Regions from separate parts of the Homo sapiens genome. Here regions 1, 3 and 4 are each linked to region 2. Evidence: fine-mapped expression QTL. A gene starts in region 2. Each other region holds a variant in brackets. All regions are shown on one strand. Distances are from middle to middle.

Region 1 (8,000 bases), 370 kb after region 2:
GCCCACGTTCTTGAGGCAGGAGAAGGGCCTGAACAAAGAAGGAAACACAAGGACCATGTGGACCTAAAGCAGCCCCAAGAGCTGGTGTATCTGGGAGTCCTTACCCATCCAGCAAGGCCAAAGGGGTGTTACCAGCCTCAGCAAAGCAGAACAGGTGGATTCAGGAAAGCAAATGAGTTGAGGCTGGCGGGGTGGAGCCTGTGGAACTTCCTGAGCCAGACACCTCAGTAGGTGCCAGCAGCCCTCCATGGATGAGGAGGGAGCTGTTGCACCTTGATATGTATTTTTGTCATCTGGATCTGGGCTCTACAGTATGGTGGCCACTGGCTACATGTGGCTGTTAAGCACTTGAAATGGAACTAGTCCAAACTGCGATGGGTTGTAAATATGCAGTGCACACTGAATTTCAAAGACTTGGTATGATAAAAAGATTGTAAAATCTCAATATTTTTAAATTGGTTATATGATGAAATATTTTGGATATACCAAGTTAAATAGAAGAAATTATTTCATTAATTTCTCTTGTTTCTCTACTTATTTTAAAGTGACTGCCAGAAAACTTAAAATTGGGTATGTGTAGACCTTGGTCTAGATGCTATACCCTGGACCTCCTATCTGGGGTTCCAAAGGCTAACTGATTACATCTCCTTTAAGACTACCTGGGGCTCAGCCTATCCCACCACTATGTCAGCACCTCCTTTTTTCTTATTCTTTCTTTATTATCTGTGCTTAAGATTTCTTGCCCTCCTCTTTCTTGGAGTGACTTTGAGGGTCGCAGAACTAGACATGCTTGTAATTACACAGGCTCTGAACATGTGAGTTGAACAGGAACCCAGGGCTGAGGACCGGGGTGGACCCCTCTGCACTGTAGCATGGGGTACCCCCAACCTAGCTCCATGCTTTGTAGGTCCTGTCAGCCGCCACAATTGTTGCCAAGCACACGTCAGCCTTGTGCAATGCCTGCCGCATCGCCTCATCCAAGACGGCCAACCCAGTAGCCAAGAGGCACTTCGTCCAGTCAGCCAAGGAAGTCGCCAACAGCACTGCCAACCTGGTGAAGACCATCAAGGTAGGTCGCTGGACTACCGGCCTTATTGAACTCTGTAACTCCTGTTCTGGCGGGGGAAGGGGAACAAGATTTAAGCTCCACTCCTCTCCTTGTCTAGTGAAGCTTAACTTCTAATTCAGTCTTATGGTTTGTGTCACTGAATAGGCATCCCTTACTAATGGAGATACTCTTCTTGAAAAACCAACAGGCTTGGGCTCTACTAACCTTTTAGATGGTGGGGAAGGAGGCCTCCCCAAATTCTGTACATGAGGAGCTTAGGGACAGAACTCTGGTGGGAAAGGGTTGGTTATAGGGCCTCTCTTAGCACTGTGCTTGCGTAGCAAATACCCTGATTTTACTTAAATGATATGTTTACTTGCAGCGTTTTTGGGTGGGCTAGTAGAGGGCTCTCCCATCATTGCTGAATATATCTGGACCAAGAGAGTAGGTGGAAGGAGAAGGGAATGGGAGATTGTGGAAAAATCACTTAAAACATTTTCATCATTCCTGTGATATTAATTCTGTTTATAGCTGTTTGAATGTTTTAAGTGGAGCGTCAACTTTTAAAAATAGAGCATCTGGTGTTCATTAAAAATTCACCTTTGCATTAAGGTATATGGGCATGTGGCGGGTGGGCAGGTTCACTTGCAAGAAGCAAGTGGGAATCACTAGGCCTTAGTACTTGTAGGTGGGCGATGAAGCCACAAACACAGTCTGCCCTCAGCTAGGACCAAGCAGGCAGCAGGCAGCTGACCTGTGAGAAAACAGCCACAGCCTGGACAACAGACCGCAGGCAGAAGGCCCAGCACCATCGCGCCAGCTCCCTCCACAGCCCCAGCCTTCAAAGGAGCATTGTCATGGGAGGCAAGATACCAGTTCTGTGTTAAACCCTGGACACCACTGAAGGGAAAGGCATTGAAGGAGTTAACACTTTTTAGTTAAGGGTTTTGTATTCATTCAGATAGGAGGTTTGGCTTTGCTGCTGGGACAGTCCTAGAGTAAGAGAAGTTTTCCCAGTTCTCTCCAGAGGATAGGACACTGCACACCTCATTTTGTTTTGACTACAAAAAGCCAGTGCAATTGCATGCAGAAATCAGTCAACAGGATGACCAAGCAGAGGCAAAAGGAGAGAACACCCAGCCCAGCGCTAGTTGGAAGCTGGCAGTCAGCACATGGGGCTCGCACCCCAGTCAGCAGCTTCTTAGCTGTTTAAACAAAGAGTCTTTTTTTTTAGAAATGAACAAACAAAAACCCCTCCCTATTTGAAGGCAAGAGTAAGCTCAGTTGAAGTTGAATAAAGCCAGTGTCCAGGTTCCCCATGATCCTGGTGGCAGGTTACCTGAATTACCATCATAGTTCACAGTAATTAGGAAGTAATAAAGCTTACATTTAAAAATGTTTATTTTGTGCTTTAGGTATGTTACTCATTCACTCCATACAACCACCCTGTGCTTATCCCCATTTTACAGATGGGAATCTGAGGCACAAAGAGGTTAAGTAACTTTACCAAGGTGACCCAGCCAGGAAGTGGTGGGGCAGAATTCAAACCCAGGCCCCAGAGCCCCTGCTTTCAGCCCTGGCATGCTGTTCACCTCTTTGGGATGGAGAGACGAAGTCATCTCTCCAGCCTGGGAAGAAAGACCTTGCTGTGTTTGCAGGGCTTGTGTGTGAGTTTGGGGAGGTAAGGGTGGAAAGAGCGATAGAGTTGACAGCAGTGACATCGTTGGTTGCTGTGTAATGAGCTTATCTCAGTTAAAATCAATCATTTTCTGGTCGTTAAAAAACATTATATTTAGATGGACCAACGGAGTAAAAACAGGAAAGACACTCTTTATTCTGTCGAAATTTCTGGAGCCCTTTCTTGTCTGCCTCCTCTTCAGTTTTAAATCCTGACCTATCTCTATATAAAGCATCTCTGTTAAGATCTCATGTTCTTTTCAGATTCTCCTCACAGTGTCAAACCCTCTTTGCGATTCCCTGCAGCAAATGAGCTCTCGTGATGGCCTAAAAGATAGGCCTGTGCAGAACATCAGGGGAGGAATGTCGGGGGGTTGTAACGTGGAAAAGATAAAGGCCTCCGTCTCCTGGCGCACCCTGGGAACGAGGAGCAATGCAAGAGGAACAGAAATGAACGTGCTGCCCCTCCGCGTGTGGAAATGGGCCTGGTTTTTCAATTCCCATCATGTGGCAGGGTTTGCTGGGAGCCATGAGCTTTGCTTTTAATTTACTAACAGGAAAGTGGTAAAGGTCATTTCACTGTAGCACATGGTACTATATACTGAATAGATTTCCTGTTTGAAGGAATGGTTATGTGTTCTGTCAAACAGAAAAACAAATGAATATTTAATTCCCTCAGTGCTTAAGACAGGTGCCCTGATAGCTGCATATTGCTCTTAAGTTTTATGCTGCTTAGTGCTGTTTTTTTCTTTTAACCATGAGGATGTGCCCAAGCCTAAATCCCAGCTGCCACACCCTTATAGTCATGAAGAAGGGAGGGGAGCCACCAAGAGAAGCACGAGGGAGCAGGAGCAGATTACCTCACACAGTGGCTCATCGGCATCAGTCACTACTGATGGCACTCTTTAAAATCCCAGAGCAGGGCTCCACGAGAATCCATTTCTGTGTTTCTGCCTCCTGCCAGGGATGGCTGTAAATGCTGGGCATGGTAGAAGGATGCACACCCCTAACCACAGCGGCTGTCTCTCCGAGTCACCACATACGCTGTTGCCTGCCTTTTTCCTTTCATTCAGCTCATTACCTAGTCTTGAATCAGATGTGTGGAATGGAATGTTATTTTAAATGTGCAGTCACTCACATTTGGGTGCCAAGTAGAAATTATGCAACAGCAGCGTTTGTTTTTCTGAGAAGTTGAAGTTTGGCCTTGCCCCTCACAGCAGAGTTAAAGCTCGGGGTTTTTGCAATTAAG[C/T]ACTTTCAGTGTGTACCACAGACACCCGATCCAGCTCTCTTTAATCGAATTTGACTTGGCTGTGAGTATGCTTTCTTGGTCATCCCTATGTTTGGATTGGGAAAGTGGTTTCTTTAGAAGGAAAAGGAAAAAGGCTGTTGGGCTTTTTACTCCTTGTTCTGTTGCCTTTGTCTAAGGTCAGCAGGAGAGAAGGGAGCCAGGAGGCTCGGTTCATTGTTTGAGGCATGCCAGTGAGTAGCAAGGTGACCTTGTCAAGTCATGTCACTTTCCAGGTGCTGGTTTTATTGTCTGGAGAATTGGGAGTTTAAGCTTAAATTGTCTTTAGGGTCCCCTCTAACCCCCAAAGTCCATGAATCTGACTTTGTGCATACACAGAAATTGTTTCTCCCAGATGTCCGTGGTATTTTGCTAAGGGGGAACACTTGGAGCAGGCTCCGGGCTTGGGAGTGTTCTTGTTCTGGTGGGGCCTGGAAATATGGCTGAGTAAATTTACCCTTTCATCATTATGGCTGGTATGCCAGATGTTCTGTGACATGGAAACTCTCATGCTTGCTTGAAATGTCACCACTGGGCAGCTTTGAGTATTCAGTTTACTTGAGTGGCTCTGCTGTGCCCAATGGAAGCAGAGTTCAGAAGTGAAATAATACCTGTGCAAACTATCCTTTCTGACGCCGGATGCCTTTTCTGGATAAAATAACTTGTCCTTTTTGAGAATGGAAAATGATTGATATGGCTTGCTATTCTAGTTCATGTTATTCAAGGCTTTGACCTGCAAATAGCAATGGGCTATATGTTAATATGATTTTAGGGCCTGTGCTCAAAACAAAAGCCCCAAACAAACAAACAAACAAACAAACCCTGTCTTTATTCTAATAGTGCTGTCTGTGACACCTACACAATTAGAAAACCATTCCTTGAGATTTCCCTTGAGTTGTCATCTTTTTAGTCTGAAGAAGTTCAGCTTAGGCTTAGTGGCTTGATTGGCTGCCCTTCTTCCCAATAGACTGAGAGGTTTGTGGGAGCAGAAAGGGGAAGAGAAAAGCTTGGAGAGGTAAGAAGCAGGAAGGGCGAGCAGCACCAAGGGAAGGCTGAGCATCTCCTGTTAAGCTGGAAGTCGTGTGATCCCAGCTGAAGGGGTATGATTGGAGAAAGCCATGTAGCCACTGGTGGGGCTGGGACCTGAGTTTCTTCCACTCCAAAGTCCACTCTTGCAATCAGCCTGCTTCACTCTTTTGCCTGTGTTTGGGCCCATCTGTGTCAGGCTCCTGCTGAGTGGCACCCACCCTGCCTCGCACTGGTGTTCTCAAATTGCTCTGAAGTCTGGTAAACCCCGACCTCCAGGGATCTACCAAACTTCAGAGCGATATTAACAGTGCAACAAGATCACAGTACCAAAGTGGTTCACTTCTACGTGGCCAGTGCCGGCAGCATAAATCAACATTTACCAGCTATGTAAGTGGTAGTGAGAAATGAGGCTTTATATGTGAGCAAGAAGTAGCCGGCGTGCAAGGGTTTCCATTGGGCCTGGAAAAATGGCAGAACTGGAGAGGTGAGGGTAGGGTCAGGGCCTGTCTGGTGGGGGAAGGGCATGAGCCAAGGCAAGCCAGGTACTATATTAGCAAAAAACAGTAAATTAGCCAGGCTTGCGGGAATTCCTCTGAAAATATTAGCATTGTGGGTATGTAATTATTGTCCCAAGCTGCCAAGGCTTGATTGGAATGTAGTTGTTATTCAGAAATCGCCTTCAAACCAACGGTGGCTGCCTCCTCTTGCTCTACTGAAAAACAGAAATGCTCCCATCTCAGATCTGCTTTGCTTGGTAATGCCAGTGCCCCTGTTTTTTTTTTATCCCAATTGTCTAAATTGGCTTTATATGTTGCTCATAAGGGTTAAGTTAAAAGTTTAAGTGGTCATTTAACAAGGAAATTTGCATTCTTCTGCAAACATAACTGCCTTGTCAAGTGTAGCCTTTTGCTGGGAGGGAGGGTTTCTGTCATTGGGTCACAGGCTGTAGGTTCTAACAGTCTTGATCCTGAGGAGGTAGAGTCCAGGGCTGGGAACCTCATCGAAGTGTTGACCCTCTGTTAGCAGTCTAGCATGGATCACAGGCCACATTCCTGGATCCTTATCCATCCAGACCGTAAATCAGCAATAGGCCTGATCATGCAATGCCATTGTGTTACCTGCTGTTAGTTTTTTGTTTTTGTTTTTTTTTAATTATGAAGCATAAGATACACACAGAGAAAACACGTTATGTTTAGAGTTCAGTGAATTTTCTCAAGTGGAACACCCCTTGGTAACTCTAGCCAGATTAAGAAACAGAATGTTATTGACACCCAGAAGCTTTCCTTATGCTCTCTCCGGTCTTATCTGCTCTTCTAACACCCTAGATTAGGAGGGTCACCTGTGTTTGCACTTGGTACTAATGGAATTGTACAGGAGGCACCCATTTGTGGGTGGCCCGTTTTGTTAAATATGATGTTTGTGAGATTTATTTGTATGGCTGGGGGTAGTTCTCATCTATTCCTTCTCATTAGATTCCATTGTGTTCATTTCAGAATGATGACAGTTATGCCTGCCTTGCCTCCATCAGTCATTAGGGAATATCCAGGTAAAACTTAGAAAAAGTTAAAAGTACTGCTTTAAAATACAATACGGTATGTTTATTGTTTGGAAGAGAATAGATTTAATCTGAGTAAAATGAAGGCAAAGATCCCAAGGATTGTAGTCTCAAAAGTGAGGAGGAAAGTAGTCCCGCTGCATAGTCTGGTGCAGGGGGTCACGGGGCGTTGAAGAGCAGGGTGCTGTTTAAATCTGTGTCTCTGCTTCCTGGGAGTGGAAAGTTGACTGTGGAGTCAGTTGTCCTGTGAGCTACACATTTAATTCTCCACAACATCTAACTGGGCCCCTCTGCTTGATGGCAGGGGTCTCTTTCATCAGTTCCTATTTATTGTTTATGAAGTCACCAGAGATTTTCAGTGTTCCGGTTGAACCACCTTCTTTCACTAAGAGGTGATTACTGTGGTTCAGAAATAATTTGTGCTTCTCAATTGGGCAGAATCTCCCTGTTTTCTCCCATCAGGCCCTGGATGGGGATTTCTCTGAAGACAACCGCAATAAGTGTCGCATCGCCACCGCACCCTTGATTGAAGCTGTGGAGAACCTGACAGCGTTCGCCTCAAACCCTGAGTTTGTCAGCATTCCTGCCCAGATCAGCTCCGAGGTAGGGAGTGTTTACAGGAACATCATACTAAGGTCTTTGGCTAACTTTGTGTGGCACCAAATGAGTTACTAGTTAAAACTCCAACAGCTCTCTCTGTCAACATGTAGGCTACTGTTACTCTTGTCAATGATGGCATGTGCACAGTTAGTGAAACACAATGACTACACCTCTGTTGAGAGATAACATATATGTAGAGAACAATCTTACTGCCTAGGTTTGGGGCGATTCTTGGGATGTGTCACACTCAAAAAATGCTATTTAAGGGGCAAACATGGGCTTGAGTCCCCGCCATGCAGACCCCTGGTAATCCAGTCTTCATGGTTCCCTGCCCTCTTTGTCTCCTTCAAAGGGCAGAGGTGGTGATTTGGCAAAGAACAGGACCTTTCAGGGCCCACGTCATTCACTCATGTCTTCGACCCTGACTTTGATTTCTCTGCTGTTTGGTCTCAGGGTTCCCAGGCACAGGAACCAATCCTGGTCTCAGCCAAGACCATGCTGGAGAGTTCATCGTACCTCATTCGCACTGCACGCTCTCTGGCCATCAACCCCAAAGACCCACCCACCTGGTCTGTACTGGCTGGACATTCCCATACAGTGTCCGACTCCATCAAGAGTCTCATCACTTCTATCAGGTCAGTTTCCCATCCGGAGGTTGCTGCCAGCCTGCATCTCAGCGGGGAAGGAGGAGGATAAGCCCACCAGGCTTTTTACTTAATAGTGATATTGTTGATCATTATCATCTTTTTCTTTTCTCTTTGGGGCCGGAAGCACTGGTCACAATAGTAATTGCTAACTTAAGTACT
Region 2 (8,000 bases):
ATTTTATTATGGCACAAAATATTCTCTTATAAATAAAGTATAACAAAATATTTGGTGGAATTTCTTTTATTTTTTCAACATGGACACAGTTGAGTTTGCTCAGCTATGAAAGCTGAGCAAAGCCACCCCAGATACCTACAAGTGCTCAACAGGAATTCAGGAGGTTAAGGCTCAGTGCAATGGGAGGAGAGGGGCAATCTCTCAGCATCCAGCTCTTTAGCACCAAGCAATGTCTAATTTGGTAATTACAAATCTGACTTGTGAAGAAAATGGTTTTTCGTTCCAGATATATTTATTACAAGTGACTTGGAAGCTATCTCTTTGACTTACCTCCCCAAATGTTCCACTCTTTATTCATACAAAGTGTATTTATTTTGCTACTTAAGATCTGCTGGGCAGAAGTAAGAGGCTGTAAGGCTTGAGAAATTGCTTAGATGGAATGTTTTATCTCCCACCCTGTTTTCCTCTGCTGGGTAGAGACGAAGCCCCAAAATGTAATCTTGTTAAAAAAAGTTAGATTTTGTTTTTTTAGTTTTTTTTTGCTGGTCTACAATGAACTATGATCACTCTGAATAAAGACAGCGACTACTAGTAGCTGACTCTAAATTTAGAAATAACTTTTTTTAGGTCTAGGGAGGCATCTCAATTTCAGAAAAGTTAGTAAAGGTTACTGGTAAAATTGCTTTTACTTCTACTGGGGAAATTTTTGAAAAATATAATGCTAGGACGTAGAATGGTTAGTTGATTTCTCTAAAAAAACAGTAAATGGTTTTTAGAGCCCTAAGAGTGGTTAGAAAAACCAGGAGCTGTAAAATTAAGAAGTGTCCAAAGCCAATTGGTTTGAAGCTAGAACTAAAGCTGAGTTCTAAGGCTGATGTTCTTTCTCACTGGGGGAAAGAATTTAATTGACCTTGGAAAGCCACAGAATAGTGCTATCTGGCTTATTAATGCCCAAATATTCAGACACCTGCACCTCACCCTTGTGAATGCCTTAGGATTTAGCTGGAACTTTGAAAAGTAACTGAACCAAACCAAGGCTATAACTCTACAGGATCTCAGCATCCCAGAATTTTGCTGACACTCTAATAGAATAGATAACTTTTCAAATATCTCAGGAACTAGTAAGATAGGTAGTGAACAAATAAGGCTATTTTCATAAAGCAGATTTTTATTGAGTACTTATTAAATACTATGTGTCAGGCTCCTTCAGGCACAGAGATACAGATGAGGTTCTTGCTCTCATGGAATGTAGCTTCCATTACTGAATGGCATCCCGCTGATGGGTAGTGGAAAAGTGTGGGGATACTTTCAAGAGGATGCATTAAGTAATGGAAAATCTTGAAATCCAGGTGTCAGAAAGATTTTGAGATGCTTGATAGGAAGCTATTGGGCCCTATGAACGGAGGACTAAGTGGAAGGGGAAAATCACTTAAGTTGCAACCATTTTTTCCTTTCCTTCTTGATGAGCCTCTTATGTAAACCTGGCATTTGGACCATAAAAATATGGTTATTCTTTGTTAGTAAACCAAGGAACAATTTAGGTGGCATTAATTTAGTGAGCTTATTACCAGGCTCATACAGAAATCAATAAACATGTACTTTTTAATCAACCCCTGAGGTGGCTTGTTGCCACCACTAGTTATTCTGTGAGACTGGTGAATGTTTAAAAAGGCGTGGTGAACAAAAATACTTTACCTGTACAATGAGAAATTGTGCCCTGCAATTTTTAGGACTTTCTCAAGTTGCCAAGTAATTGGTTCTCTCACTGTGCATTGATAATGTATACTTTGTTAGCTTTACAGTTTATATTCTGCAATAAGTTACAAAGTTGTACCCTAAGGTTATCTTTGCTGCTATGATACATACAGTCCGGTTCATCAGCCTGGTTAAGGACAGGGTATTGTTCTCACAGAATGTCCAGCCTTATCCAATGTTCCAACGGACTTATTCAAAATAATTTCAATTTACAAAATCAATTCAGTCTCCGGTTTATGGTGACAGCAGTTTCTTTCTCTGAGAAACACTAAAAAGTTGCCAGCAGTTCCATTTGAGTAACTGAATAGATTTGCTACCTATTTCCTGGTCCATTCTGTATTGGGATGGAAATAATGTCGTCTTTCCTTTTTTTTTTCTTTTTTGAGACAGAGTCCCGCTCTGTCATCCAGGCTGGAGTGCAGTGGTAGGATCACCGCTCATGCAGCCCCCGAGCTCCCGGGCTCAAGCGATCCTCCCACCATTCTCCCCAGTAACTGGGACTACAGGCATGCGCCCCCACACCCGGCTGATTTTTAATTTTTTTTGTAGAGATAAGGTCTCGCTATATTGCCCAGGCCGATCTTAAACTCCTTGGGCTTGAGATCTTCCTGCTTTGGCCTCCCAAAGTACTAGGAGTAAAGGGGTCATGGCTAATTCTTGTTTTTTTAAATTACTAATGTGTCCCTTACAGATAAATAAAAAAGTAAAATTACTCACAATTCCACCAATCACTGAGAGACTTATTGGTGTTTATCTATCCAGTCTTTTCTGCCTTTCTCCATAAATCACAGTTTTTAAAAACGGGACCATACGGTACATAGTGTTTTGTCTCCTCACCCCCTTGAATAACCTTCACATTGTTCCATGGTATTTACAGTATTTACTAATAATGACTGTAAATGTAAGAGGTATATAACTGACTTTATTCAGGGCATGGCAAGCAGGAGTGAATTATTTTCTTCTTATCAACACAGCACGCCCCTACCGCCACTCATCCCTATAGTCGTTCTCTAAATACCTAAGTGACACCTGACCAGCAAGGTTTCAGGGTCCTTGTGCTGAAAGGAGCAGGCTCGCCTGGGGTCACGGCCCTCCGCTTCGCAGCAAGACCCCACCGCCCACCACGGCCCTCCAGTTAGCCACAGCTCGCTTCCCCCAGGACCGGGCCAGAGGTCCCGAGAGGGCACTCTGCGGACCTAGGGGCCCCAGCCTACAAGACGCTGTGTCCTGCAGTCATCCCCTTTACACAGCAGAGCCCCAATTCTGGGAAGCCGGGGTCACCCCGAGCCTCCCTTCCCCGTGACAGCTCGGCCGGTGCATCACCTTCCCTCGCGGACCCTTTCAGCATCACCACGCGTGGGAGGAAACCCAGGACGGGCGCCTGAGCCTCGGTGGCGGCCCACCCCGGTGCCGCGCGGCGCCGCGGCCGGACCGGCGCCGCGCCGTCCCCGAATGATGACGCGCTTCCTGCCCTCCCAGCGCTCTCGGGCAGTGCGCTCGCGCTCGCCCTCGGCTCTTGTTCCGCGCCCGGAGCCAGCGGCGGCGGCAGCGGCTGAGGCGGCTGCGGGAGCGGAGTGGTCGCCCAGCGCGCGGGGGGACGCGGGCTGCACTCCCGGGCAGGCGCTCTGCAATGAGACAGTAAATGCATCCCCCGGTAAGGCGCACGGCTCACTCGGGTTTTCCTCTTCCTCCAGCTGCATGCACGTTGCATGAATTTCTCGTGTCTTTTCCCTCCCCTCTCCAGAAGGAAAATGTGGGGTTTTTTTTCCTCCCTTTTGCTTCTCGTGAGTGATGCCAATGCAGGAAAAACCCGTAAAGCTCCCAGATTTGATGGTCTAGGAGGGCTTCTTGCAGGAAAATAAAAATAAAATGAAATTAATGCACCTGTCTATTGCACATGTATGTTTCACTGCACCGGACCCGGGCGCAGCGGTTTGCAAACAGCCTCGCAGTCGGCGCCAGAGAGCGGATTCCTGGCCGTGGGCAGCCGGTCCCCTCCGGGGCTCTCGCTGGGTTTCCGGTAACTGGGCTTTGAAAAGCGGCCCCGCCTGCATAGAGTGTCCCCTCGACCCCAGCCGGGCCCCCGCGCCAGAAGAGTTGGCGCTGGAGGAGCAGCTTCATTCCAGCACTGGCCGCCGGGACTCCAGCGCCACTTTGCAAACAAGTCTCCCGCCGAGGCTCTGGGCTAAGACAGCCCGCCAGTGCGGAGTTCCTTCTCCGGTGCCGGACACTCAGACCTGCCGATCCCACGACTGCCCTTTACTTGGCAATCTCGCCACGGGCGAACTGCTGGCCGCTGAGCGACGGGGGCAGTGCCGGGCCGAGAGCGGGGCCAGGCTTTGCATCCAGTGCGGCTGGCCTCACACAGACTCAGCGGCTCCCTCTCCTTCCTCGGTCCCACGAGCTGAAATTTTGCGCCCATTGGAAGCTGGAGGGACCTGGAGACGAGTATTTCGGGATCCCTGAGGGGACCGAGGAACGACTTTCGAGGGCGCCATATTTTCAGTGGGTCTTGACTGCGGAGGGGAGGGGGCGAGCAGTTTCTGGGTCCCGGGGAGAGCCCCGCGCCCCAGTCGGAGAGGCCTGATCGGTTGTCGCCGGGAAAGTTTGCGCGCCGAGGCAGGCGCGGAGGCGGCCGCACAAGGCGCGCACGACTGCTGTCCCCGCAAGGGCGCGCGGACTACAGCGCGTCGCCACGCCAGCCGGCGGGGCTTGGGAACGAGAGCCGCCGTCACGGACAGCGTGCTGGGCTTGCCGCCTTCCTCTGTCCCGCCTGGACCCGGCCTTGGGGCTCCGAGGCTCAGGGAACACGCCCCTCTTCCCCGCAGCTACCGCTGCCCGGGTGCTCAGCCGGAGCCGTGCGCTGGGCGGCGTCCCGGGGCTGGGCGCCGAGTGTAGAGCGTTCTCCCGGTGCCCGGGCTCGCCTGGGTGCTCCGAGGGGCGCAGTAGCTCACTTCCTGGGGGAGAGGAGGCGCCTTGGTTCGTGGATCAGGACCAGGGCCTGGCCTGTGGTCGCCCCGAGGCCGCCGAACAGCCTGAGCTTCCAGTCGCCTCTTTGGCTTTAGCGGCGACAGCAGTAGCGCCCGCGGCTGCGTGTTCTGCTCTCGCAGCTCGTAGAGGCGAGGAAAGGAGGGCGTTTCCAGAAGTTGGGGCTTCAGGTGACGCGTGGGGAAACTTGGATTCTTGCTGTCCTTGAAGAGCTGGGACAACTTAGGCCAGAATTCCTGTGTCTCATAGTGAAAACTTCTGGTTCTTTCCAGAAGATGAGAGAGGAATGAACTGAAGTGTTGGCGTTGTCAAAGACATAATTAAAGACGGTTGGGTAGGGATGATGTCTTGGAGAAGTGGTCCCCAAAATACACGTAAATTGCCCTGGTGCTGTAAGTACCACTTACTTTTCCATTAATAATACCTGGGTGTGTTAAGCTGTGGCATTGTAAGGTTGCACGCTGACCTCCCTTCTCCAGAGCTTGGAGGCAGCGACCTCTCTGGAGTGAGGGGGAAGCGGGAGTGGGGAATCTTTACTTTTGAAGTAGACTGTGACCTCTGCTTTGTGATGGGACAGGGCACGGGCGTGTTTGCCAACCTACAGGCAGCCAATTGCAGGAACGTGTTCTCCTTGGAGTGTTACCGAAATGATGTCATAGTATTGAGGTTTTGTCGGCACTTCCGGTCTTCTTCACTGAAGAGGCTAGAAGGGACCACAGAAACCTCTGGGGTTGGGGGTTAGGTGTGCAGAGGGAGGGGAGAGGCTTTCCTGTGGGAGATGTGCCTGGAGATGTTAGGTGTTAGGCAGCTCTTTCCCTGATTCATTTCATGAAGCGCCTGCAAAAGTGACTCCGATATGAATGTCAGCCAAGATTTTACCTACCTTGATTGCTTATTTGGGACCTCTATGCAAAATCAGAGGATGGCGGTGGGTGTGACAAGTGGTCTTGAGAGAAGAGGGATGCCTACACGAATGCCTTTTTTTTTTCATTGAGCACTAGAATAGTGGAAAACACCCAGAGCCCAAGATATATTTTTCCAAAATTAGCATAGCTAATTTAGAAGAGAAATCAGTTGCAGAAAGCCTCAATCCGTTTTAAGTTTCCAGTCTTAGAGGGAGCACCTTAATCACAGAAACAGGTCTCTTCATATTGGGGAAGCCACTGGTTTCTCTCTGCCTTTGTAACCATTTAAGTTATCAGGGAGATTCCAAAGAGTATTAGAGGGTCTCTCTTTTTGGCATTGATGTGGAGCTTCTACCTCGAAAGAGAAAGCGAACTTTTAACAACTTGACCCTGTTGAATGAGTTACTAGGGATATTCTGTACAGGCATAGGCTATATATGTGTTTTGAACTCATCTACTGCTGACTCATTCAGGTTTTTCCAAACACTGTTCCCTAGAGTATTTTTAAGTGAAATTAGGGTTTAGGAAGAGGTGAGTATGTTATTTTCTAGTCAATATCTGTCTTTTCTCTCTCAAAATTAACCTGATTTCCCCTCCTTCACCCCTCACTCCCAGAACATCGTTAGTTCTCTAGAGCAGTAAAGGACGATTACAGGTGGTGAATGATATAAATTTTTACCAACTATGCTCAGAAAAAAACTATGCATCTAAATAGGTATTTATGCATTTTAGCGTTATGCTTTGTAACTATGTATATGCCACATATATTTTATACATGTTAAACCTTACATAATAAAAAAGAGAAGCTTTATTGCAAACCCTCCAATCTTTATTCCCAAGTTTACTACCTTAATATTTATCTTTTTTTTAATGCCTCTCTCAACAAATTGTTATACATCGTGCTTTGTTGCCTCTTGCCTGATTCTTTTTTTTTTTTTTTCCGAGATGGAGTCTTGCTCTGTCACCTCAGCCTTCCAAGTAGCTGGGACTGCAGGCACGCACCACCATGCCCAGCTAATTTTTGTATTTTTAGTAGAGACAGGGTTTCACCATGTTGGCCAGGCTGGTCTCGAACTCCTGACCTCAGGTGATCCACCCGCCTCGGCCTCCCAGAGTGCTGGGATTACAGGCATGAGACACCGCACCTGGCCAACCTGATTCTTAATCATCATAACTTCATGGCTTGACCAAAATTCTTGCATTTTTTTCCTTTTAAGATTTTGTAACTTCAAAAGGTTAGAAAACGAGTATGTGTTTTGGAAAGTTGCCTGTCTGTTTACCAGTCTGTGTAGTGGTGTTGTGATGTGTGTGTGGCATGTCCAGACTCTTGAGACAGTTTCTACAACTTGTGATCTGTGACATTATTGCTCCAGAACTTTTGAGTCATAATGTTTTCCTGATGATTTTGAGTGGTCGTTGGCCAGTACAGGAAGTACTCAAAAAGAGCTAAATAATTCAGTTATTTTTATTAGGTACAAAAATTTTAAAGACAAGAAGGAAAACATAATAAGCAGGCCTGGAATTACAGCTTAACATACCCACTGGTGCCTTTTTAATTACAGTACTTTCCCCAGAACTTTTTAATCGTATTACTTTTATATCTAATAAGGAGACTAGTTAAAACATAAGCCACACATAACTATTACAAATAATAGGGATAAATGGTGGGTATGACCAGATGTTTTGCCTAAAGTTCAAAGAGTTAGGGAATGTGAACTCTGTCAAATTTCCCCTGCAGGGCCCACACCCCCTCCTCAATAACCTGGAGAAAGGCAAAGAAGTCAGGGTGGAGGAGGGGAAGATAACATGCTTAAGGTAGACCTCTCTTGTGTGTTGACCACCCTGACAATCTTTGGCTTGGGGCAGGTGCCATTTGAATAACAGCTGGTGGACAAGGTTGGGTACAAAATGCTTTAGTTGTGAGAGTCTTTATATGTCACCCAGAGCTATGAATTAGGACTGGGCTCATTTGCCACCCATTTCACAGTGGAGTTTCAGAGACGGTGCCAAGACCATGGTTTTGTTTTTCTCTTAATCAACAATTTAATTTCAGTCAAACTGATGCTGTTCTGAAAATGTAGAACAAGGAATGAACATTTGTATTTTCTTTTTACTCTTTTAGCTGCAGTTTTAACAAACTTAATTCCCTACGTCTGTTATTCACTCATTCAGTGTATGTTTTTGAGGGTTTACCATGTACTTTATGCTGAGAAGACATCCCCTGCCCTCACAATGCCCACACATTGTGTTCCGAGGAGGTGATACTCTTTTGTACTTTGTGTATCTAGTAGCCAGGGCGGGGGTGGGGTAGAGGGTGGGGAGATGAGAATGTGATGAAATAGTAACTGAAAT
Region 3 (8,000 bases), 130 kb after region 2:
GTGATCCCTCTTTTGTGGTCCCTCCCAACACCTGCCTGCCAGGTGGGAAGTGATAGCTTTCCTGCTCAGCATCTGTGATGCGTTGTCTCTTCCTAGTGCTGGTGTCCTTTGCTTTGTGTTAGAACTTTCTGCTCTGTTGTAAATGTTGGATTTCCTTCCTGTTTCGACAGGGAAATGTCTTATAGCCTGGGGTCAGCTGGAACAGTGGAGGGAGTGTATCCCATAACCTTGTAGACCTTTACCTTTTGCTAAGGGCAAGTCACTTAACCTCCAGTTACCCATTTGTGAAATGGCCCATCATTCTTCCCCTGCAGGGTGATAGTGATGATGAAAAATGAGGTGTAACAGATACTAAAGGGTCTAGCAGAGTGTCTGGCATATGGACAACTCAGTAAATGCCAGATCCTTCTCTAGGTTTCAATCCAGATAGGGTCTAGAAGAAGTTCTACACAAAATTGGTGCTAAATAAATATTGATGGAATTGCAAACCCTTTCAGAACCTGTTTGGCATTTTGTAGCTGCAGATTAAATGGTGTAAAAGCCTGTAGCCTTGTGTGTTGGAGCTGTGACTCTGGCTCTGTTACACTGATTTCTGTCTTTAGTCTAGGGCGGAGAATATTCCAGATCTCTTACAAGTTAACCCCTCCGCCCTCTACTAACCAAAGCAAAAGAAATTCTTGTCAAGGAGTTGGCAGAAACCTCAACATTAGCTTTGCTATAACTTGAAAGACACAACTTTCTAGTTTTTGCATAATATATGCGCACAGCACACACTGTACCTAGCTGCTTTACTTTGGTCACCAGTTGCTTGTTGGCTACTAGCCTAGTATGCGAACACCTCCAGCTTTTTTAGTTCTTGTTGGTAATTAATTTCCTAGAGGCTCTTATTACTTGTGAACAAAACTTTTGAATACATTATGAATGAGGTTTTACCTGATGTCATTATGTCAGTAGTGTTATGAAAAAAATAACCATAAAACTTTCTTCATTGTGGCAGTGAAGTATAATTCTGTTAAAAAGATCAAATGTCTAATGCTCTTAAGAAAAATCCTGAGTCTCCCTTTACAAGTACGTATGGCATGTTGGGAACAAAGTTTTAATACGGTGCTTTTTTCCCCTCTCAAAGGTCTTTTATAACCTGTTTTAGGCAGATGAGCTTGTTTGATTAAGAGTGGTAATTAATTCACAGTGGTCATTAGCATGTAAATATAATGTGACCTTCACATACTGTAAGAAGAGATTTTATTTTAGCAGTTCATGGGCATTGACTTTTGACAGAGGGAAAGAAAGGGAAATTGTATCAGTTAGTTTGGTGTATTATTTCAAAACATGGAAATTAATTTTGTGTCAGGTTGTAATTGTAATTGAAGTGTTAAAGACTTCGAGAGTGGTAAATTGCATTTAATCTCTCAGTAGTCCTTAAGTGAGTATTCAACAGTTATCTTCCTAAATAATTGGCATTGCTAATGAGAAGAGTTAAATCAGTTTCTATCTTTACCCTGTTGGAGTGTGGAATTAACAAACTGGGAAAATGAAAACTTTCAACTTTCCCAGAAGAGAGTAAATATGCAAAATGCCATTTAAAAAAATATAACTCACTTACACCAAGGAGAGCGGAAATGTAAGTCTGGAACATTTTGTGGAGAGGAGCAGGTATGAGGCAAAGGTACAGACCTAGGAATTAAGAGCACGTGAACCTTGGAACTCCCTACACACTCTGTTTCCTTCTCTGTCAAATGAAGCTGCTTAGCTAGAGAAGATCTAAGGCCCATTTTAATGCTAAGATTTTTATTATTTCTGTTTCTCTGATTTTTTTCATCTTCTATTTAAATCTGTGTGGTAGATGGCTATCTTCAGTCATACTCCCAATATAATTTTAATCCCCCCAAAAGTATATTTATCATATCAGTTAGCTCTTGCTATTAGCTCAGCACTGTGTTGGTGAGATTGATCCATGTTGTTGTTTGCATGACTGGTTTGTTCATTTTTATTGCTGCATAGTAATCCATTGTGTGAATATACTATAATTTATCCATTTTACTGTCACTGGAAATTTGCATAGTTTCCAGACTTTGGCTACTCCAAAGAGCCAGCAAGTTGTGGTCTTGTTTTCTGGCATACCTGTGTGCAGGAATTTAAAACTTTCTCTTTCTCCTTTTCTTTGAAATATAACTATAACAGATCCTATTATGTGTTGGGTTTAGTAAACTTTGTGATGAGTGTTCTCCCTGAAGGAGAGGGCATTTCTTACTTAGATACAAGAAATTATCCTTAGGCTTATCTGTGTAGACATACTACCAGTGACTAAAGGATCACTGAAAACATGCATACAGTTTCTAGTTTTTAATTTGATCTTCATTTTAAGTGCCTTCTGTGCATGTTGGGGTTTTTGGTGTTTTTCACACATCTGATTTTTTTTCAGACGTGTGTTTTTATATCAGACTCCAGTGAATTCTTTTGGTAGTGGACAGGTCGTAAAGTATAAATAAATCCAGCAGAACATACTTGCCATTCCTCTTGTAGGCACCCTCTGCCTGTCCTTTATGTGTGCTGGGCTTGCCCCATAGCAGCTGTGGTTGCTGGCATGTCCCGCTGTGCAGTAGCTCGCTGCTGCTGAACCCCCTATGCAACAAGATCCTGGGTGGGGAAGGGCAGCTCAGGTATGATGTGGCCAGGACTCGAAGGGAGCCAATCAAGTGTGAATTTCAAAACTGAAGACATTTGATTAGTGTGACTCTACTTTGTGGATCATCCAATGCAACCATCTCTTTTTACAGGTGGAGACCTGGGTTTAGAGAGGTCAAGTGACTTGTGCAAGTAGAGACCATGTCTTTTGCTGCCGTTTCCGTTGCAGCTTATATGAAATTATTATTTATAGTTGAGAGGGTAAGGCAGTATGAAAAGAAGACAGTGTGCTCACAATTTATTATAGTTTTTGGCAATAAGAGCTTCTAAATTAGGTCCAGAACAACATGTGAGTTTGCCTTCTCCTTTTTGCAAATGACATACAGCAT[C/T]CTTTCCTCTTTGGATTATGTTTTCAGTGTTTTTATATGGGTCATAGGTTTATTTTGGTCCTAATCACATTATGCAGTTAGGAGTTTTGCTGCTCTGCCTGAAGAATTCTACATTTTACTCTATTTGTTTTGACTACAAATAAGACAAAATGTGTCTGTCAGGTGAAGGAACATATTCACTCTATGGTGTTGGTAGTGACCTATAATTATCTCAAATCTTTTGATTTCAACTTTGGGTGCATGCTTGCTTCTGGACAGCTGTTGCAGCCTTGATCCGCCTCTTGTCTCTTTTCTTCCCATGGCTGAAGGCCTGGTGGTGTCCTTCTGCCTTTGGTACCATCAGTCTCTGCCCACCCAGCTTAATTGGACAGAAGCTCTAGGGGGCAGGTGATCAATCATACCACGACTCATTTGCCTGTGCAGTCATTCTTAGTAGCTTTGCCTCGTATCATTTTGAGAGCAGAAAGTTTTTTTGGGGCTGCTTATTTAAGATTTTAGGTAGGAGGTGAGGTAATTGCATGAGGCAGAATTAGGTATTGATAAACTTGGTCCTGAGTTTTATTGGAAAGGTGTAGGTTGACTGGAGTGGAGGGAGATGTGGGTTTCACTGGAACTATCCAGTGATGGGATTGTTCTGACTATGATGCTGTAGATTGAAGATATTGCTGCTCCGTCACCATGTGGCACCTCCTCACTGTTACTATTTCATTGAAGATCAGTGGATACGGATGAAAGAGCTAATAATATTTCAGTGGCTGGTGGATGTTCTGAAGCCAAGGATGGCGAGAGGTTGCTGCTAATTCAGAGATTACCAAACCTTCGCCGTTCCTCCCACTTTGTGCCTTGGAGTCCCCACTTTCTGCACCTGTGCCTTTCATCCTTTAGCCTCTTTGTCCAGTCTTTACTACTCCTTAGGCTCACCCTTGTCCCTTTGTCCTCTTCCTTTTCCTTCATACCCTGAACTGCTGTTAGTAGAAAATCACAGTAAAGGTTCACACATTTGTTGTACTTGGAATAAAATGGGATGTTTCATGTTTTTGCTTGAAAAATAACTGAGTTAAATCCTTATAGATACAAACATAAAGATATCCCAAACAAAATTGTTTCTACTTTTAAGTTTGCTTGGGGGCCATGGTGGTTTACCCCCACTGCATTTGCCGAGCAGTGGAGAAAAATGAGGTGGTGATTGCTGTTTTGCAATGAACCTGAATAATTATTCCACACCCCCAATATTTTAATTTTGTACCCCTTTTGTAAACAAAAAAATGACATTGGCCAGGAGAATGAGGACTCTACTTACATTCTAATTTGTTTTTTAAAAGTCAAACACACCGCTAATGTTATAAGAGAATTGGTGCTTTGTGGCTTACCACATTACCCACTTGGAAAAACAAACATGTTAATTCTAAGGAACATACTGATTTGATGGTACAAAAGTTTCCCAGACCTGTTGGGTAAGTCTGTTTGTCTCTTTCTTTTTTTAAATGAAATAATTATGGGAGACTCTGTAGCCATGTCCCAGCTCTGCCACTTACTTAAATATCCCTGGACATATTACTTGAACTATTTAAGCCTGAATTTTCTCATAAGAAAAATGGGGTTAATGATTTTACTTAGCCATAAGATTGTTGTGTGGAACGAGAGTAAAGCACTGACGTCAGACTGAGCACATAGTAAATGCTCATTAAATATTAGCTAGCAGCAGTTTTTTTTTTTTTGAGATTGAGTCTCACTCTGTCGCCAGGCTAGAGTACAGTGGCATGATTTCGGCTCACTGCAACCTCCGCCTCCTGGGTTCAAGCGATTCTCCTGTCTCAGCCTCCTGAGTAGTTGGGACTACAGGCATGCGTCACCACGTCCCGCTAGTTTTTGTATTTTTAGTAGAGTCGGGGTTTCACCATGTTGGTCAGGCCGGTGTTGAACTCCTGACCTTGTGATCTGCCTGCTTCGGCCTCCCAAAGTGCTGGGATTATAGGCGTGAGCCACCACCAGCACATTTCTTTATAGTTATTTGTGTCGGAGGCAGGAAGGAGCCACACAGCTTGGAGAAGTAGGAGGAGCGTAGGTTTTGAAGACAAATAGACATGGGTTCAGATTTCAGCTCACTAGCAAGTTTGGTATGACTTTAAACTTGTCTGAGCCTCAGGTTTCTCAACTGAAAATTAAATTTCTATCTACTTTATCAGTGTTTTGAGGACTAAATGGGCTAGAACATGCAAAATATGGTGAACGGTGGAGAGCCGTGACCTGCAATGTTTTTTTTGTTTGTTTTTTTGAGATGGAATTTTTGCTCTGTCACCCAGGCTGGAGTGCAGTGGCGCGATCTTGGCTCTCTGCAACCTCTGCCTCCCAGCTTCAAGCAATTCTCCTACCTCAGCCTTCCCAGTAGCTGGGATTACAGGTGCCCGCCATCACACCCGGCTAATTTTTGTATTTTTAGTAAAGACAGAGTTTCACCGTGTTGGCCTGGCTGGTCTCGAACTCTTGACCTTAAGTGATCCACCAGCCTCAGCCTCCCAAAGTGCAGGGATTATAGGAGTGAGCCATGGCGTCCGGCTTGCAATGTCTTTTTTAGTGTGGATTAGTGGTATAATGATTTAAGATTTATTGGGCACTTTACATGTGCCACACACAGTTCTAAGCAGGATTAGAAATATTAACTTGTTTAAACTTCACAGCAATTCTAAGAGGTAGCTACTACTATTGTTCTTATTTTATGGATAAAGAAACTGAAGTTTAAGTGGTTAAGCAACTTGCCCAGGGTCATAGACCTCTATGTTATAGAGCTGGATGAACTTGATATGAAGGTGGAGTCCACAGTATTGACCACAGATCTGGGGCTTTTAGGTGAGACAAACCCTTTCCTCCTGAGTGTGCTTTTTATATAAAAGGTAGACATTTCCCCAGCAATTGAAGTTGGCCGTCTCAGTACCTTTGGGTGGGGGTAGTTAAGTACCTCTCACTTACATTGGTAAATAACTCATAAATATTAATGACAGCCCAAGTCAACTCTTGGCCTGGACCATGTTGATTTTTCTGTTAGTGTTCACACCTTTATTTTAAGCTTATCCCTGGTGGCTCATAAATGAGACACTGAGGGAATTTGTTTCCTGTGCCTTTTCAATGTAAATTATTGGCTGGTGATGATGATAGCATATTAAATAAGCTTAACCTTGGAAGCTTAGCCTCTTTGCAGAATAGAGAACTGTAAATTGAAGACTCCAGTGTTCTCTTACTTTTACAGGCTGATACAGGGTATGCCAGCTGCTAGGATTAGGCTAGGAAGCAAAAGTGATTGGTAAAGGAGAGTGGGTCTTGTCAGTGGTGTATGCAGAAGGAAGAGTATAATGTGTAGCAGCAAATTTCTGTTTGATGGTTGAGGACTATAAAATTGGCTACACAGTTTTCAGTGAAAGACATTTTCTAGAAAGGAGTGTGTTACGTGCATATGAAATTGAAGTTGTATTTCTAGGAAAATATTCCTGAAACTTTAAAAAAGTTTTTTAGTTAGTGTTTGTATTACTCCGTTTTCATGCTGCTGATAAAGACATACTTGAGACTGGGTAATTTACAAAGAAAAAGAGGTTTAGTGGACTCACAGTTCCATGTAGCTGGAGAGGCCTCACAATCATGGTGGAAGGCGAAAGGCACGTCTTACGTGGCAGCAGACAAGAGACAGTGAGGACCAGGTGAAAGGGGTTTCCCCTTATAAAACCATCAGATCTTGTGAGACTTATTCACTACCATGAGAACAGTATTGGGGAAACCACCACCATGATTCAGTTTTCTGCCACCAGGTCCCTCCAACAATATGTGGGAGTTATGGGTGCTACAATTCATGATGAGATTTGTTAGGGACACAGCCAAACCATATCAGTGTCTAAAATCAAGTTTTGAACTAAGAGCTACGGAATGTATGCCATTTCTCTCTGGGGATCTGAAGTCTTCATTGTTGTACAGTTGTATGCCTCCCAAAGTTGTGTTTATTAATTGTCACTTCTGATGGAAAATGGCACATTTCCATCTCCATGCTTCTTAGAAGAGCCTGCAATTTACCCCTGAAGTTTGTTGAAGGCACAGAGCTGAGTAATGTCTACATGTGTGTAAGTGTACATATATGCACAGGCATACAGCCTTTCTCTAAGGGGTTAGAAAAGATAACCTTGATAGCTTTCATGTTGAATGTGTGAGGAATACAGAATTGTGAATAGGTTTTGTTATATCTACCCCTCTGTTGGCAACGGGACACTAAGTCAACCTTTTCTTATTTCTTCTAAACGGGAAACATAACTACAGCATAGAGACCAAGGAGGTGGTTGGAAAGATAACCGTATATGTTGCTAAGCGGAAAAAGTAGCATCATATTGCAGATTTAGGAGGTCCAGTATTACTTACTTAATAGTTGTTTATTTTTTTAAAGTGTATATCTGTTTTAGAAGTTCTATCTCTTAAGGGAGATAGAGCGATTTAAAAAATAATCTCTGAGGGCTATCTGTTCTTACTCAGATATTTTTTAAGGACCTTTTAATTTTTATGTACTTGTTAAATTTTTGAAAGGAGTGTGTGTTTAACTCCTTACATACTTAGTCCTTGCCAGGGTGAATGGTTAAATTAGACGTGCAAAAAGCTCCACATCATTGCCTGCTGTTGGCTTGGGTGGAAGTAAGGAGAGTATACTACTTTAAGTTTTCACTTTCTTTTTGTCTTCTTACAGTGTCATTCCTTTGTCCCTCCCATAGATTGACAGGGGAGTGTGTCTGGTCCCTTGACTTCTGGGCCAAACATGCTTAAACTGCAAATCTGAAGCTTGAAGGGAAAGAGGATCATAAGAATAGTTTTGTGGTGAATTGTAGATCACATCCCACCCTTCTCTTTCTCCTTTATGGCTGAATTTTTGACATCTGTGCAGTGCTGTTGAGAGCAAAGAATGGCTGGGGCTGGGTGCCGTGAGGGTGGGGGGTACAGGGGAAAGCCCTGGAATAGGGT
Region 4 (8,000 bases), 21 kb after region 2:
AGATTTTAATTTGGTAGTCCAAATTAATTGTATGGTCCAAGAATTTGTTGTTTTCTTTTCTTCTTCTTCTTTTTCTTTTTTTTAATTTGTAGAGACTAGGTCTTGCTTTGTTGCCCAGGCTGTTCTTGAACTCCTGAGCTCAAACAATCCTCCTGCCTCGGCCTCCCAAAGTGCTGGGATTACAGGTGACAGCCAGCATGCCTGGCCCTTATTTTTACTTATTTATTTATTTATTTTTTGGGGGGTACAGGGTCTCACTCTGTCTCCCAGGCTGGAATGCAGTGGTGTGATCTCTGCTCACTGTAACCTCTGCCCTCCAGGTTCAAGCGACTCTCCTGCTTCAGCCTCCTAAGTAGCTGGGACCACAGGTGGCACCACCATGACTGACTGTTGGGGATTTTTTTTTGTAGAGACTGGCCATGTCGCTTATGGCCAGTCTCTAACTCCTGAGCTCAAGCCTTCCGCCTGCCTCAGCCTCCCAAAGAGCTGGGATTACAGGTGTCAGCCACTGTGCCTTGTAGTTTTTATAATCAAAATATCCTTAGGTATACTGAAGTTTAAATGTCACTGAACTAGGGTTTGGAAATCAGTCCTGCTTTTTACCAGAAGCCAGTCACACAGTAGGGTTATAAATACTGTTAGATTGTTTATATTGGCATTTGTTTCCATTTTTTTCTGGCTGTTGCAGGGTCTCATTCTGCAACAGAGATGTAATCTTAATAGATTGTTAGCTTTCTATTTGAATAACCATTCCCCTTCTCATTTTTTATAAAAGCTCATGCAATTCATTTTAAGATAGCCTTTTAAAAAGTTACATTCATTGTCAAAGTAAATTCCTTTGGAGCATTAATAGTATGTGAAATATATTTTAGATTTTTGGAGTTAATTCAAGGAGGCTTTGTGGTTTTAAACTGCACAGGTAGTTAGGAATGACCATGGTTGAAATATATGTATATTCTTGGACTCTGCATGCATATTTCAAAAATTGGTAAATGCTTTCATATGGGAGGGGGAGGGTTGGGAGGAGATACTTTATTAATAGAAGAGATTCAGTTTTCTTGACCAGTGTAATAGATCTTGGTATTCTAAGTTCTGTGCTTTGCAGATGTTTCCACAAATGAATTTTTTCCCCCTAAAGACAAGATTTTTAGTTCTATGTTCTTCCTTCTGGGAAAATGAGGAACCTTTATTTTTAGAAATGGGAGCTAGGTCCGGGTGCAGTGGCTCACGCCTGTGATCCCAGTACTTTGGGAGGCCGAGGCGGGTGGATCACGAGGTCAGGAGTTCAAGACCAGCCTGACCAACATGGTAAAACCCCGTCTCTACTAAAAATACAAAAATTAGCCGGGCGTGGTGGTGTGCGCCTGTAATCCCAGCTACTCAGGAGGCTGAGGCGGGAGAATTGCTTGAACCCGGGAGACGGAGGTTGCACTGAGCTGAGATCACGCCATTGCACTCCACCTTGGGTGACAGAGCGAGACTCCATCTCAAAAAGAAAAAAAGAAAAAAAAAAGGGAGCTAAAGTTAATTTTGTGTCTTTGGGTCATATATACTCACATCATTTTATATAATGTATTCTTGAAAAGTTAGAGATAAATAAAGTAAAAACTGCAGCAAGATTTACAGGCATTTGTCAAAATTTATAGAACTGTATCCCTAAAAAGGATGAATTTTACTTTACGTAATTATACTTTAATAAACCTGATTTTAAAAAAAAGGTATCAGAGGAACTTGTCACTTTAGCCATGCTTTTTGTGAATTAGTTTGCAAAGTAAAGATTCCTTTTGTGAAGCATGTATTCCCTCAAGGACCCTCTCTGTTTCATACTTGTTTGAAAACTGTTCTTTGTGCATTCTCTCCGTTAGTGCTTAGTGGGCTGGGTGGAGTGGAATTGGTGCAGGGCTACTGAGGGATGGGCGCAGCCTCTTATCCATTACTCTTAGTCATTTCTTTCTTAGAACCACATCTGGCACATGTGGGAGTTCACAGAGGTTTGGGGGATGAATTAAACCATCAGATTGATGAAGAAGCCGAGGTGCAGAGAGCGAAGGGGCTTGTTCAAGTACGGTGATAAGGTAGCGTAAGTGGGAGAAGAGTCCTTTGGTCTTCTGACTCCTAGGCCAGTGCCCTTCCACTGTGCATTCTCCAACGCATAGTGTATCTTGTAAATTCGTGTTTTATAGTTTGGGAGTCTTTTAAACCAGGGTACATCCATGTGCTTGCTGTGGTTGTGGAAGCAGCCTATTCTTGTAGAAGAGCCCTGGCTTTGGAGTCATTCATCAGTTTGGCACATCTTTTTCTGGGTGTCTACCAAGTGCATGGTGGATACAGCCTGAAACAAAACAGACCTGAGCCCTGCCCTCATGGATAGCACAGTCTGGAAGCGTATGTGTGGACCGAGGCATTAAAACAAACCAAAGAGGGATGAATGCTGCAAAGGTCACAAACATGCTGATGTGGGAACCCACCGCATAGTGGCCATAATTTAGTGTGACCTTGGACAAGTCACCTAACCACTGTAAGCCTTAGTGTCCTCATGAGTAAAACGTGTATATCATCCCCAAGTAATGAAGTTATTGCAAGGATTTAGTAGATGATGGATGTAAAACAGATAGTTCATGCTCCTGGGCACATGGTAATTAGATGTTATTCCTCCTTAGAGAGTGTGAGTAATGGATGTGTGTGTGTGTGTGTGTGTGTGTGTGTGTGTGTGTGTGTGTGTGTTTTGTTCCCATGCTGCATTGGCCCTTGTAGGCAACCTCAGGATAGAAGTTTGATATATTTTTTTTTCTTTTGGGTCATCTTAACAATGGGGAGATATATTGGAGGGCTCTGCAGGGTTTTGCCCATTGAGGTTGAGGTTGGAGCAGAGCTTTCTAGTCAGGGAGCTGAATTATGCTAACAGGTGAGCTGAGATAGTGAATGATGCCTTTAGTCTTCTCTCCATTCCTCTGGGGCTGCCAGGACTTAGGCCCTACTGACATGGTAATTTTTCAAGTACGCCAGAACTTGGAAAAGTTTGGGAGATTATTCATCTCTCAAAATGGGGGCCCTAGAAGCAGGGGCTAGGCTGTTAGATTTTAAGTTAACTAAAGAGAAAAATGGAAAGGAGACAAGGGGACCCACGGGTTGTGTGGGAACTTTAGAAGAGGGATGTGGATGAACTAGTTCAGGGTTTCCCAGACTTCTCTGATGATAAGATTCATCTGAGTACTAACTCAAAGTAAATTTACACAGCTCGCTGGGCATGCTCTGGCGTATTTAACAGTTAGCCCATGTAATTCTTACCAGGGACTTTTGGGAAACACTGGGTTAGATCATAAGTCTCTTTGTCCCTGCGATTTAAAATCGGTCTGTGGACCAGCAATTTCAGCATCACCTGGAAACTTGTTGGAAATGCAGAATCTTAAGTTAATCCAGACCTACGGACTTAGAATCTTCATGTTAATCAGATCCCGAGGTGAACTTGCATGCATACTAAATTTGGGGAAAGGCTTGCCTAGAGGACTGGGACACCTGTCAACATTTGAAACCAGTAAGGTGGTGGTAACAAGGGCTGATAACCTTTTTGAGGAATTGGAAGAGACGGAGGTCTGGGATTTGAACTCAAGTTTCTGGCTCCAAATTGAGTGCTCTACTCAAATCCTCTTGAACCTGTGGTCTTTCATCATCTCTGATGGCAGGGTGCTAGCTGTCCTTCTGTTAATGTTGACCCTGGAAGAATGATGCCCAGGGAGACAGGAGCATGTGTTTTTTGGCACGACTGGGACCACCCAAATGTGTCACAATTCTTGGCATCCATTAACTCTGTCAGGACACCTTCTTCCTGTCCCTGGGTAAAGACTTACATTCAAATGTAAGAGTCAGCAACTTTGAGTTCTTGAAGACCTGTGGAGGTTTACATCATACCAGCAGTGGGTCCTTGAAAAAGTTGTTATATTTTTGTCCAAGGGCAGGATCAGATGGAGTACAGTTTTTCTAATGCTCCCCTAGACTCTTAAATCCTCCTTCTCTAAGCACAATGTCAGAGGAAATACCCTGCGAGGCACTTGCCAAATGGCTTGAAATAAGCGTCCGTGCACATTTCTGAAAAGACAATTAGAAGCTTATTTGAGGAACTAAAGGCCTGCTGTGCTAGACATTAGTTGGAGAGAACTCAGTGCCAATTTGGGAAACTCTCCTGGGGGCT[C/G]TTTCTCATCACAGCCCCTGTTTGGAGAAGCTGAACTAGAGAAGTGGAGAGACTGCAAGGCTTGGGAGAGTGGAGGATAGGGAGGAGGGGAAGAGGGAGCGATGTGCCCTCGAGAAAAATGAACAATGCCAATGTCTCCTCCAGGGAGAATTGAAATCTTTGCAGGTAAAATCAAGTGGAAAAGGGAAAGTCATTATAAGTTCATCAACACTTGAATTGTGTTGCTAGTTAGCACTGGTATCCTGGCCTTGGAAGACTCTTTAGCAAACTGAGCCCTCATGAGGTTAGTGCCCTGCCCAAGGTGACACATGGGGTTAGATATAAAGCCTGATCAGAATCCAGGGATCTTATTTAGTCCATGCACTGCCCCTTGTGCTCTGCTGCCTTGGAAGATGCTAAGAATGTAAAATTACAATGATTGGATCCAGATGTGCTGGCCCTGCCCCCACCCCCAAGCTAACATAGTGAGTTTTATTGCTAGTCCATCTGAAGTGTACAAGGCATAAAGATCAGGAAAGAAAAATCTCAAGCCAGTAAATATCCCTATTGTTGGGGATGCTATACCCGGCTGTTTCTCTTGGCTTGACGCGCCAGATAGAGCGACCTACGGAACACAGAACAGGGAAAACCTCTGCACTGTAAGTGGCAGGATGTTTGTGTTCAAAGTCATGGCGTGAATTTATATGCTATTGCCAAGGTCTGCAGGGACAGGTGCACATTAAGTTTTTAAAATTAAATTGTAGAAAGGCTGAAACTTTACAGCGATTCTTGTAGCATGAGTAGGGGATCTGAAAGGGCTCCAGTGCAGAGGCATGGGGTGGATAGAGGCATTTTCTGTGATGAAACACCAGATTGCTTGTGCAGAAAATCTGAAGCCTTTGACATTTATGTTGCACAGTTCAGCAATAGATTACACATTGTCTTGGTTAAAAATGGTTTAATGTGTATGCCTATTTTATTTTTGTCCCCTAGATTGAGTTTTGAAGGCAGGAACCAAGCCCTTTATTTATCTGGCAGTCTGAGGGTATGGTAAATGATTGGAGCCATCTGGCTGCAGTGGTCAAGGGAGATTGCCTTGGGAAGTTGAACTTGAGCTAGAGGCCAAGTGCACTGAATTTTGGTGTCTTTCCATGTGGTTTTGGCTGTGGCAGCTGGGCCATTACAACTTCATAATCACATGTCATATTGGTTGAACTCAGTGAAGTGTTAGCAAAAAAAAAAACTATATATATATATATATATATATATATAATTTGAGAAATTAAATCCTTTTAGATGATAGTAGGAACAAGTAAGTGGTGCTTGAGGTTTAATTTGATTTGAGAATGTGGGGGAGGAGAGTGAGCCTATGCTTTGATTTCAGTGGTAGAGCACTGGTGTTCCAAGGGGATTGTGTTTGAGAACCAGTGGGCTTAATCTTGCCACTGAATCCAGTAAGAAGCTAGTTTGTCCTTCAAGTAGAGGCTGAGGTGCTGTGTTCAGCAGGCTCCTCAAAGTGTAGTCCAGGACCAGTGGCAGCAGCAGTATCACCTGGGAACTTACTACAAATGCAAATTCTCCAACCTCACCCCCAAACTACTGAACCATACGCTCTGGGCTGGGGCTCAGGAACCGTTGTTTTAACAAGTTCTCAGGGGTGTTCTGCACACAGAGGTTTGAGAACCGCTGTCATACAGTATGTAACAGCAAAAGTGATTTGGACGTTCAGTCTAGTGGGTCATTTCCCAAAGCATTTCATGTTTGGTTGCCTTCTTGTTCTGGTAACACAAGCCAAGTTGATGGGGGTAAATAAAGTTAGATTTCCACTAGTGCTTAGTAATAAATTAATGACAGCTCCAAGGTCTGGCTGGACGGAACCCTCGAGTCTACCTCCAACTTGGCTCTAAAAGCAGACTCTGGTTGTGACCCAAGGAGGAGTAAATAAAAGAATTTTTCCTGTCAAGCATGCCTTTTAAAATTTTTATTATTTATTTATTTATTTATTATTGAAATGGAGTTTCGCTCTTGCTGCCCAGGCTGGAGTGCAATGGCGTGATCTCGGCTCCCTGCAACCTGTGCCTCCCAGGTTCAAGCAATTCTGCCTCAGCCCCCCGAGTAGCTGGGATTACAGGCGTGCACCACCATGCCCTGCCAATTTTTGTATTTTTAGTAGAGACAGGGTTTCACCATGTTGGCCAGGCTGGTCTCAAACTCCTGACCTCAGGTGATCTGCCCACCTCAGTTTCCCAAAGTGCTGGATTACAGGCGTGAGCCACTGTGTCAAGGATGCCTTTGATAGTCATGTTCCTATTAGGGACAGAGATGGACAGATTTCTGGGAGGAAAGGGTAGGAGAGGTGCCCGAACTGACTGACAGCCGTGCGAGTTTCTTCTGAGGAGACGTAGCAAGTGGCAGGGCTGAGACATGGATATGGATGTTTTTCACCTGTGTTCAGCTGGCTGCATGATAGCAAAAATGTTTGATGAACATTCTGCTGCTGAAAGGACTTTTTCATTGTAACAGTTGAAACAGAGCTCTCTGTTTAAGAAACGTTTCCTGGTGGAACAAATGATTCCAACTGAAACAAACTAAATGTTGAGATAGGATTTACTTTGACTTTGAGGGGAAAGAGGACAGCTAACAGTGCCCATTCATTTAACCCCTGCTTGCCCCATTCTGGGGAAACAGCAGCCCAACAAAACAGGAGTCCCGCTCTGCTGGGGTGACCCAAAGGAAGAGGCCCGCTGCCAGGCGCTCCTGGCACAGGGAACAGTGTGTTCCAAGGGTTGGGCCAGTGGGCTCACGGTCGCTGGGTCTGCTTCCTCTGTTTGGAATTTGTGGTCTTTGCAGTGTGTGAGGCTGAGAGATTGTCACTAAGCTATGTCCAGAGGTCCACGTGTCAAGTTTTAGGATCTCGGAGTTGTGGGGGGTAGCCCTCCATGTCCATGCAGTAAATCACATCATAAAACTTAAAGGGACCCTATTTTAGTTGAAGATGTAATTGGCTTAAAACTAATTTAAAGGGAGTCAGGTCTGGGTGGAAGTTGGGATGATTCTGTGAAGAATGTTGGGGAAATATAAATTAAAAACAAAGTTGGTTGGGCACAGTGGCTCATGCCTATAATCCCAGCATTTTGGGAGGCCAAAGTGGGAAGATCGCTTGAACTCAGGAGTCTGAGACCACCCAGGGGAACATGGGGAGACCCTGTCTCTACAAAAAATACAAAAATCAGCCAGGCATGGTGGCACATGCCTGTAGTCCCAGCTACTTGGGAAGCTGAGGCAGGAAGATCACTTAAGCCCAGGAGGTCAAGGCTGCATTGAGCTGTGATCACCACTGCATTCCAACCTGGGTAACAGAGCAAGACTCTATCTCAAACAATAAATAAGTAGATTAATTAATTAAAAACAAAATCCCTCTTCAGTCCAGAAAACCTCTCCACAAAGGTAGAAGAGAAAGAACACAATCTTATTATTGGCTAAGCTTTAAGCCAGAATGTGATGTGTATCACAGGCAATCTGCTAAAGGAATTGCAGAAAGGGAAAGAAATATTGCTCTTTTGTGTAGCTAAGTAGATACAACTCATTATATTTATGTTTTCAAGATTAAATTGCTAAATTTGCCGTATCTTTGAGGCTGGAGGTAGGGTTTGCAATTTGGAGTCAGGTGACAGCTGAAGTTAGGCTCATTTCCTGCCCAGAATATAGCATTATCTTCCTTGATATTACATATCAAAGAGATGACTCTCAAGCCATTGCGAGAGAGGCTTATTTAGCATTTGGCCTGACAGGAGCCACCCTGCCCCTTTGCCCAGAGGAGGGTGGCTTGAAT

Which allele goes with the higher level. Alleles are on the strand shown, and positions count from the first base shown. SD is a standard deviation of normalised expression in the study named.
For the expression in thyroid of the gene that starts at base 3,274 in region 2, C is the high allele of the variant in region 1 and T is the other (small effect, 0.15 SD a copy in GTEx).
With allele C in place of T in region 3, the expression in aorta of the gene that starts at base 3,274 in region 2 is lower (small effect, 0.36 SD a copy in GTEx).
As copies of C replace G in region 4, the expression in tibial nerve of the gene that starts at base 3,274 in region 2 goes down (moderate effect, 0.55 SD a copy in GTEx).

What was found.
Region 1: its variant is fine-mapped to the expression of TLN2 in thyroid (GTEx, PIP above 0.99).
Region 3: its variant is fine-mapped to the expression of TLN2 in aorta (GTEx, PIP above 0.99).
Region 4: its variant is fine-mapped to the expression of TLN2 in tibial nerve (GTEx, PIP above 0.99). The same link has a PIP of 0.9 or more in esophagus muscle and gastroesophageal junction.

Annotation. Positions count from the first base shown.
Region 1 is chr15:62,754,625-62,762,624 of GRCh38, forward strand. It overlaps TLN2 (talin 2), which reads left to right. Exons shown (of 59, transcript NM_015059.3): 37 at 908-1,069; 38 at 7,057-7,197; 39 at 7,648-7,829. Among named protein-coding and RNA genes, the nearest start is that of MIR190A, 65 kb to the right of the region's middle. RefSeq lists enhancers at 3,472-4,269, 4,270-5,067. The variant C/T (reference allele first, on the strand shown) is at 3,975.
Region 2 is chr15:62,387,277-62,395,276 of GRCh38, forward strand. TLN2 (talin 2) reads left to right here and starts at 3,274. Exons shown (of 59, transcript NM_015059.3): 1 at 3,274-3,409. RefSeq lists enhancers at 2,694-2,763, 3,682-4,296 and silencers at 2,930-3,126, 3,174-3,503.
Region 3 is chr15:62,513,326-62,521,325 of GRCh38, forward strand. The region is part of intron 1 of TLN2 (talin 2); the gene reads left to right. Among named protein-coding and RNA genes, the nearest start is that of TLN2, 130 kb to the left of the region's middle. The variant C/T (reference allele first, on the strand shown) is at 3,015.
Region 4 is chr15:62,408,753-62,416,752 of GRCh38, forward strand. The region is part of intron 1 of TLN2 (talin 2); the gene reads left to right. Among named protein-coding and RNA genes, the nearest start is that of TLN2, 22 kb to the left of the region's middle. The variant C/G (reference allele first, on the strand shown) is at 4,190.